2 separate regions of the Homo sapiens genome follow, and region 2 is linked to region 1. Evidence: fine-mapped expression QTL. A gene starts in region 1. The other region holds a variant in brackets. All regions are shown on one strand. Distances are between the middles of the regions.

Evidence for each region. PIP is the estimated chance that this variant, and not a neighbour inherited with it, causes the effect. A credible set is the group of variants that fine-mapping cannot tell apart.
Region 2: its variant is the best candidate, but not a certain one, in a credible set for the expression of CDADC1 in prefrontal cortex (BrainSeq, PIP 0.80).

What each region holds. Positions count from the first base shown.
Region 1 is chr13:49,246,043-49,250,433 of GRCh38, reverse strand. It overlaps CDADC1 (cytidine and dCMP deaminase domain containing 1), which reads right to left and starts at 2,509. Exons shown (of 10, transcript NM_030911.4): 1 at 2,315-2,509; 2 at 1,469-1,563. The coding sequence starts at 2,396. It overlaps LOC105370203 (a long non-coding RNA gene), which reads left to right and starts at 2,594. Exons shown (of 2, transcript NR_135318.1): 1 at 2,594-2,799. RefSeq lists enhancers at 2,387-2,616, 2,086-2,648.
Region 2 is chr13:49,302,732-49,307,122 of GRCh38, reverse strand. No RefSeq gene overlaps it. Among named protein-coding and RNA genes, the nearest start is that of CDADC1, 57 kb to the right of the region's middle. RefSeq lists an enhancer at 427-926 and a silencer at 3,156-3,450. The variant T/C (reference allele first, on the strand shown) is at 2,545.

The sequences.
Region 1 (4,391 bases):
TGCCAACATCTCTGCTTATACTATGTACTCACTCCACCAATTCTGTTTTAATTGTTTAAATGCCTAGTGTTTCTACTCATTAGAAAATAAAGACCATGTTTTTTCTGCTTTGTGTCTCCAGTGCCAAGCACAAAACCTCATCCACAGTAAAATGAAAAGAGTAGGTGGTCTCCTAAGAGTACTGTGGGAATTTAAGGATTTATAGTCTTTCTCTGGAAAATCTAAAGCAACCTTTCAGCAGAATTATGGGCAAGTTGGAAACCTCAGCGAGTACATGCAGAATATAACTACAACTTTGTAAGAGTAAAAATAAAAAACCTCATGCTTAAGATTGGAAGCACCAAAATATTAACAGTAATGTTGTTAGAGTGGTGAGAAGCCATGTGTAATTTTCTGCCCCACCCCCCTCATTTTACCTCTGTTTTAAAAAAAGTCTTAAATGCTCAACTTAACCTAATACTATTTTCCAATGGCCGTGGCCCCCTATAAAAATTAATGCCAACACCCTAAGCTTCCAAAATTATCAAACAGAAATGATGAGAACCTAGCATCATGCCATTCCAAGCATGGAGGAAAATGAGAACCTAGCCCCTTGTTGCCCCAAGGGTAGGAGAAAGAAAAGACGCAGGATGTTTATACTTCCAATTCCAATATATTGGCTTTTATGATTATTCTTACTATACATTTCTGATTTTTTTTTTGAGATGGAGTCTTGCTCTGTCACCCAGGCTGGAGTGCAGTGGTGCAATCTCAGCTCACTGTAACCTCCAACGATTCGTTCAAGCGATTCTCATGCCTCAGCCTCCCGCGTAACTGGGACTACAGGCGGATACCACCACTCCTGGCTAATTTTTGTATGTTTAATAGAGATGGGGTTTCACTATGTTGCCCAGGCTGGTTTTGAACTCCTGACCTCAGGTGATCCACCCACCTCAGCCTCACAAAGTGCTAGGATTACAGGCGTGAGCCACTGCACACAGCCCATTTCTAATCTGTTTTGATCCTGTCTTTCAAGATCCAAAAAGAGACTACTTCCATCCAACATTAATCAATTAGCACTCATATAATGCTAGACTCTAAAGGGTATATGCTAGGTAAAATAAGACATGGTCTCTATCTCCAGGCAATTTATATATTTCTGTGGCAGAGGAGTAAACTACCTAGATAAAACACCAACAGTATATATAATTGGGGGAAATTATGTGGTATAGACAATAATCTTATTAGCCGAACTGACATATGAATACCATTAGTACCCGATAAACATGGTATTCTCAGAAAGTATTTTTAGAATGGAAGATGACTTATTACGGCTGGGAATTATAAAGTGTCATGTTAATCAATAAAGATATTTTTTAAATCTTAAGCCTTGTTAAGTTTGGTTTTAGGTATGACAGAAACTGGAGCAATAAACTCAGATTTTAAACCACTGCTTTTCTAAGGGGAAAAACTATGAAACAAATTATACCTGAGATTTTTGCCGCTGGGCTTCTGCTGGAAAGAGCTCCATCCAGAGGCTGAGCAGAGTGAAAAGGTTGACTTTAGAAAGCCTTGGTATCTGACCTACAAAAGAGACGACAAACACTTTAAACTTTGTTACTAATGGTGAAAAAGGGAGCCAATCTCAATGCCACTTAGGTGCTGCAGCCTAAGCCCAGCTGCTTTCGCAAGAGGCACAGAAAAAGATAGGGGACAAGAGAGTCAGAGGTATCTTAGCAGTAGACGCTTCAGCCTTAGTCGTGGCTACCTCCTTCTCCACTTAAAAAGTTGAGCCTTCTTTCTCCAGCCCTCACCCTGCAGGAAAAAACGGTACAGCTAATACACATAGCTGAGGGGGACAACCCAAAGCAAGCTGTGAAAAGTCTTCGCATCTGACGTCGTCGTGGTGCAAGCTTTTCTTTGGACTGTGATGGGGCGTTGCTAAAAGGAAAGCGATTAGAACACAACCCGAAAAATGCGCTGACCTTCGACGGTAAAGCAGTCGAAATACAGGAAAGCGTCACGTGCGGTTAATTTGGAAATCAAGGCAAAAGCGCCGTTTGGAAATGTTCAGGCTCTTTGACCTCAGAGGCCCCAGCTCTAGGTCCTGTGAGAAGTAGCTAACAGGGGTAAAAAGCGAGACTTCAAAAGCCAGTGCGACCGAGCCGATTGGTCCTGGCGACCGCGGAGGGGACACGCAGAGGGCGGGCAGGAGACATCCAAAAGCAGCAGGGGAGGCAAAGAGGCTCAGACAAGGAATCTGGAGTTCAATGACGGGAGACGCACAGGGCAGAGCGAAAGGTAGGGTGGCGGGAGCAGGGTCCCGGACACTCACCGGTCATGCTGCCAGTCTGGGTGCTGACTGACCGCCCGGCCCTCGCGCTCTCCAGATTTTGCATCTGCCCAGCTTCTTTCATCCCAAACCTAGCGTCCTCTGCTGCCAAGGAAACCTCTCCCAGTCAGACATGATCTCGGCCCTAGCGCCCCCGCCTCTCGCCTCCTCTCAGCAACTGTAAGGCAACGGCCCACTAGGCGCAGCCAGATGACGCCTCAAGCTTGACCGCCACTTCAGGGCTCCTCGTGTGACGTCATAGAGAGGCGGGGCTTTGGCGCCAGAGGGCTGCCCCTCGGCCGGTGACCGAGTTAAGCACCGAGCTGTAAATCGCTTGAGACCTGTATTTGGTTGTTTTGTTGGTTTTGCCAAGTAAGGTCACTTGAGGATTTCTTGGCTCGAGGTCCCAGGTTGCGCAGACTCTGACTGCATCGAGTTGAGAATTTTGGTCAGAATGTTAAAGTGGAAACCTACCCCAGGCTGTCATGGTCAGTGTTTTAGAGAACTTCTTGGGTTGGGGTGTGGAGCTGGGCGGTCCAGGATGTTCTGTCATCAGAGACTGGCGGGTTCTGGGGAACTTGGTGCCATGGAACACAGTAGGGACGTTCTGCTTCTCATCAAGAACATGAAGACATTAAGAGGTGGAATTGTAATGGGGAAAAAGGTGAGAGGAGGCAGTAGGAGTTATTTTGTTTTTAATTTCTAATGTCTAGTTTATTTCCACAAAACATCTGTATCATACCAGTTCTTTGAAATTTGTTCAGACTTGTTTTATGACCTAGATCAGCACTGTCCAGTAGGATTTCCTGTAGTATTCTATATCTGCACTGTCCAATATGGTAGCCACCAGCCACATGTGGCTATTGAGCATCTGAAATGTGGCCAGTACAACCAAGGAACTGCATTTTTAACTTCATTTAGTTTTAATTAATTTACATTTTAAGTAGTGACATGTGGCTATTGGCTACTACTGTATTGGACAACATTACTCTAGACTCTCCTCCTGGAATTCCTATTAGGCATAGGTTAAACCTTCTGAGGTTCTAAATTATTATTTTTAAAATATTGCATCATTTTGTTTCTCTGAGCCACATTCTGGCTAATTTCTTCAGATCTATCTTTCAGCTTGCTATTTATTTCTTTGGCTTGTAGAATTTTTTCTAGTTCGCCTGTTCTGAGGGTAAAGCTCTTCAGGTGATTTGACTATATCCAGAGAACTCCATTCTGCACCTTTCCTGAAGTGTAGACTTTGTTGACAGTGCCTTCATGGCAATTAACACTAAGGTTTAAAGACAGGCCATGGACTAGGAGAAAATATTTGCAAAGCATGTATCCAACAAAGGACTCATATCCAGAATATATAAAGAACCATATAAACTCAGAGTAAGTAAACAGTCCAGTTAGAAAATGGATCAAAGACTTGAATAGTCATTTCACCAAAGAAGATATACAGATGGCAAATAAACATGTAAAACAGTGTTCAGTGTCATTGGCCATTAGGGAAATGTATATTAAAACCACAATGAGATTCTACTACACACCTATTTAAATGGCTAAAATAACAAGTACTGACAGCACTAAATGCTAGTGAGGATGCAGAGCAACCGGATCTCTCAAACATTGCTGGTAGGACTATAAAATGGCATAACCACTCTAGAAAACAGTTTGACAGTTTCTTATAAAGTTGCACATATGCTTATCATATCACCCAGCAATCACACTCCTGGGTATTTATCCTAGACAAACCAAAACTTATGTTCAAACAAAACTCTGTACATGAATGTCATGGTGGCTTTATTTTTAATAGTCAAAAACTGAAAACAGGCCAGGCATGGTGGCTCACACCTGTAATCCCAGCACTTTGGGAGGCCAAGGCGGGCGGATCATGAGGTCAGGAGTTTGAGATCAGCCTGGGCAACATGGCGAAACCCCGTCTCTACTAAAAATACAAAAAATTAGCCAGGCGTGGTGGCATGTACCTGTAGTCCCACCTACTCAGGAGGCTTAGGCAGGAGAATCACTTGAACCCGGGAGGCAGAGGTTGCAGTGAGCCAAGATTGCACCACTGCACTCCAGCCTG
Region 2 (4,391 bases), 57 kb before region 1:
GGGTATGGCAGAGTTGGGGGATCAGGATTGCTTGAGCCCAGGAGTTTGAGACAAGCCTAGGCAACGTAGCGAGACTTCATCTGTAGAAAATAAAATTAAATAATTAAAGTGTTAAAAAATTTTTTCAGATTGCAATTCTGCACCTGTTTTGTTTTCTTGGCTTTCTTTTTCAGTTGGACATAACATTAGCTTAGATTTCCTGACAGGAGCGATTGCCACTCAGCCAGCCATTCCACCATTTCCCAGTGGCCCCAGCACCATGGGGCTACAGAGGCTGAAGTTCATGGTGGATGCACATCCAATACCTGCCAGGGTCCCCGCCTTCCCTCATCACTTCCTCCTCATGGAGGAGCATGTGCAGTTACAATACCCTAAAATAAAGTCGCCATCAAAACACACAAAAAGCCGCAACCCCTTTACCATCAACCAATGTAACATAGATGCAATTTAATCACTCCACTGAGAGCCATCTGTGTTACTTTAAAATACTGTGATCATAGGGTCCCTTTGGAGAATATGTTGCAATATACATTGATAATTTATCCTTTAGGGAAGGTTGGAAAAAATAAGATCACTTTTAGTTTTAGTTCTGATATTTAAAGCTGTAAAGCAAAAATATGTATTCAACTACTCATTTATTTGTTCATTTAACATCTGTTGAATTCATTCTCCTTGCTGGTTAGGGATGGATCCTGGGACAGGACCCCGAGTGACACACCGGGGTTACTGTAGGCCTCCTGTGGTGGTGGAGCTCGTGGGGCAGGGGAATCAGAGGCCTTTGTAAGTCTGTCCCCTGCAGCTGGCACTGGGGCCGAGTCAGCAGAGAAGGGAGGATAGACAGGAGGTGAGGAGCCCGGGGGGAAGGGCAGATCCCTCTGCCGACCCTGAGGACATGGCGGACCTACAGAAGGGCAGGCACCCTTCAGTGCAGAGCCCCCCACACTGGGCCCACAGTGGTGAAGCTGAAGGGGGAGGTGCAGGGAATGGGGAACCCTGACAACAAGGGGAGCCAGAGGTCTCTGACAACGCCAGCCAGCTGTGACCACACGGGGCCCGCCCCAGTTCACCTCCCCTCACAGCTGACACGATGTGCTCTTGGGACCAACTCTAATTCATCACCTGCCAGAGAGGGAATTGTGGAAACACGCTCATGCTTAGCAAAACAGACATTGCAGATGCCGCCAGATGTGTTCTGCCCTGGGGAGATGCTGACATACACCCTGCTACCATCCTTTCCCATCTCGGAGACGTCAGGTCCCTTTTTCCTTTGAAATGTCATCTACTCATGAGAGGTTTGTGTGGATTAACTAGAACCACCTGGACTTTGGGATAGGCCACACCTGGACTGAAATCCTGGCTCCACGGCTAGCTGTTCCCTCTTGAGAATCACCGAGCTTCCAGGAAACAGGCCAAAAGAGGACCTGCCTCACAGGATTGTTGTGGGAACCAACGAGGTAAAGTAGGTGACATGCCGGGCTCAGATTCGGCGCCCACATTAGCCCCGTCACCAGAGCGAGAGATTCCCGCTGCAGGGAGGGCCGTGGGCACGAAGCATGGCTGGAAAATGACGAGGCGTGTGCGCTTTGTCCGGGGCATGTGGGGATGTGAGAGGGCCGGGAGGGAGCCTTAAATGCCCAGCTAAGGGTCTGACGCCATCATTAAGGCGGCTGGCCTTTATTCAGGAAGTGACCTGAACACCTGTGTGTCTGGTGGGGGAGAGCTCTGGAGCCGGGCCTGGAGGGGGAACAATGAGGGAGGGTGGGATGATGAGCGCCAGCTGGTAACAGCGAGTGCGAACTCGGTGCTGCTGGCAGTCCCCCTCCAGATGCTTTAGAGTATTAACATCAGTCTTCAGAAACCTTATGAGGTGCGTACTGTGATTATCCTGTCAACCTAAATAACCAGAGAGTGGCTCTCAAAGAAAGTGATGTTTACTCAGGAATAGGGCACTGCCAGGGAGTATGCCTGCCAGAGTAAAAAGCACGTGTGCCTTCAGGGAGATGAAGGAAGGCAAAGGTGAAGGAAAGTGAGGACTGTATTGTTGCTTTGAAGTAATGATCCTTGGCTGCAAGGGTTAATTGCAAGAGGGACACCAGTCCAAGGCTGGACAGGTAGTTACTGGGCAGCTGTCCTCCTAGAAGCATTTTTTGTGCAAGGTTGCAGTTTTCATAGTCTGCCGTGGTAGTTTTTGTTATTAGGCATTTATGCATGCGAATATTTCTCTTCATGGCCTTCCCTTGGCTCTATTTGTCAGGATTTGTTTTTAACAAAAGTGGCTCCATTCTGATTATGACATCTTTCACAATCCCAATATTACAGGCATGGAAACAGGGACTGAGAGGGTTGCTCACCCAATTATACAGTGAGCAGATGGTGGTGCAGGATTCAAACCCAGAGCCCAGAGGCAGCAGCCATAGAACTTGGGAGATACTTAGGATTTACTATTGACCAGGCATAGCTGAACCATTTCTGGAGGACATGGGCCTGTGGCGTGGGTGACCTGAGTAGAAGGGGATGTGCTCAGCCAAGACAGGGAGCCCGGGA[T/C]GGGGGGCAGAGGCACACGAGTGTCCTGTGCCTGGAGACGTGGCGTGGGGATGTCCAGGCAGCCGTTGGACAAATGAGTCTGGGGCTCAAGAAAGACGTGGGCCAGAGGCACCGATTTGGCGGTCACTGAGATTTAGGGAGCAGCTGAGGTCTGGGTGAAGAGGAAGCGATCCATTCCTTGCTGCGATTCAAACCTCCGGACCCACCCAACTTTTCACCTGCCTCCATTTGTATTTTAACCTTATCTGTAACCTACATCCCACCTCAACCCGAGGTGTGGGGGTGGCTGGGCAGCAGGGGGACCCCACGGTTCCCATGTCCTTTCTCCATGGCAGTGTCCATGCTCAGTCTAGGTCTCCACCTGGCCTGGGGGCACGCAATATCATCCCAAAGTTTGTATTTGATCCAGTTAGTTCTGAGGGCCAATTAGTCATCCAGAGGCTTGTAACCCTGTTATCCCAGAGACCAGGCTGACAGTGTTTTTATAAAGTGCCATCAGGACAAAGGGTGGTTGAACTCCAGGCCAGGGCCTAGCTGTGTCACCCCAGCCCCGCCCTGGGGAAGTCTTGACCAGGACCCCAGCATCAGGGACAGATGATGCTTATATAATCACAGGACTCTTGGGGAAAACGGGCAAGGCCCTAGGTGCAGACTGGTTCTTCTGCAGGGGAAAAAGCCTCTGCCCTTTTCCCTGGGAACTGAGCATGACATTCCCATGGCTGTGACCTGCTGGCCTGGATGAATGAGGCTCTGTGCTACCAAGCGTGTGGGAGGAAGGAAGAGGGCGTGCCTGCAGCTGCCTGGTGGCCTCTGGCAGCACCAGGCGTGTCCTTCACCTTGACCAGGGACCATTTCCAAGCCGGGTGGCTTTGTTCAGTTGTCAATGTGCTATGCCCATCAGAATCAAGATGTGGCACGTGACCTGCAGCCAGGGAACAGGCACCCGTATAAGAAGGCCAGGGCAGGGCGGGCATGACAGTTTCCCTCGCACCTTCAATTCCCTTCTTGGGTCTTGGCTCTTCTTTCTAATGTCTTCACAAGTTTTCAGGTAGTTCCTGCACAAGATGTGCGTCACCCGTCAAAAAAGCACCATTTATCCCTCAGCTGCCCCTCCAGCCCCTTTTCTGTCTCTCTGCCCTCCTTCAGGGCAAAACTTCTCCAATTTCTCCACGAATGGGCTACACCTCCTCACCTGTGATGTACCTCACAACCCACCCATCTCTGGCTTCCCCACCTCCCTGGAAGATGCTCTTCCCAGGGCTATCCAGGGCCTCAGAGCCACCAGATCCAGTAGCGATTTCCTGTGCTCATCTGACCCCTCAGCAGCAGGTGACAGAGCTGGTGGCCTCTTCTCCAGGCCCTCTCCTCTCCTGTCGCCCAGGCAACCTCACCCTCCTGTGCTCTCTCAGCTCAGCCTCCTCCACCTCAGAGCCGAGCACTGAGCACCGTTGTGCCTGGACTCAGTCTCCTGCGCATCTCCTCTCCATCTCCCTGTCTTCCTGCAAGGCTTCAGGTCTGTGGTCTGTGCGTGCCCCACCGTGGCTCCCACCTCTGTGGCTCCGGGCCGACTTCGGCAATCTCCAAGCTCATGCATGCACTCACCTGCTGGCTGGATGCCTCTCAGGCTCCCTCTCTCCAAGGTACAGTTCAAAATATGGCATGTGACTTCCTGTCACTCCCTGCACCTGGCTTCCCCAGCTCTGCTGATGCCCCTGAAATTCCCCCAGTTGTTCATGCCAGAAACCCAGGAAGGCACATGAGTTCTCTCTGCCTCTCACCTGCAGCCAATTCATCAGCATTTCTGCTTCTGAGACTTGTGTCCCATCTGAGCAGCTCTCTGCATCTGC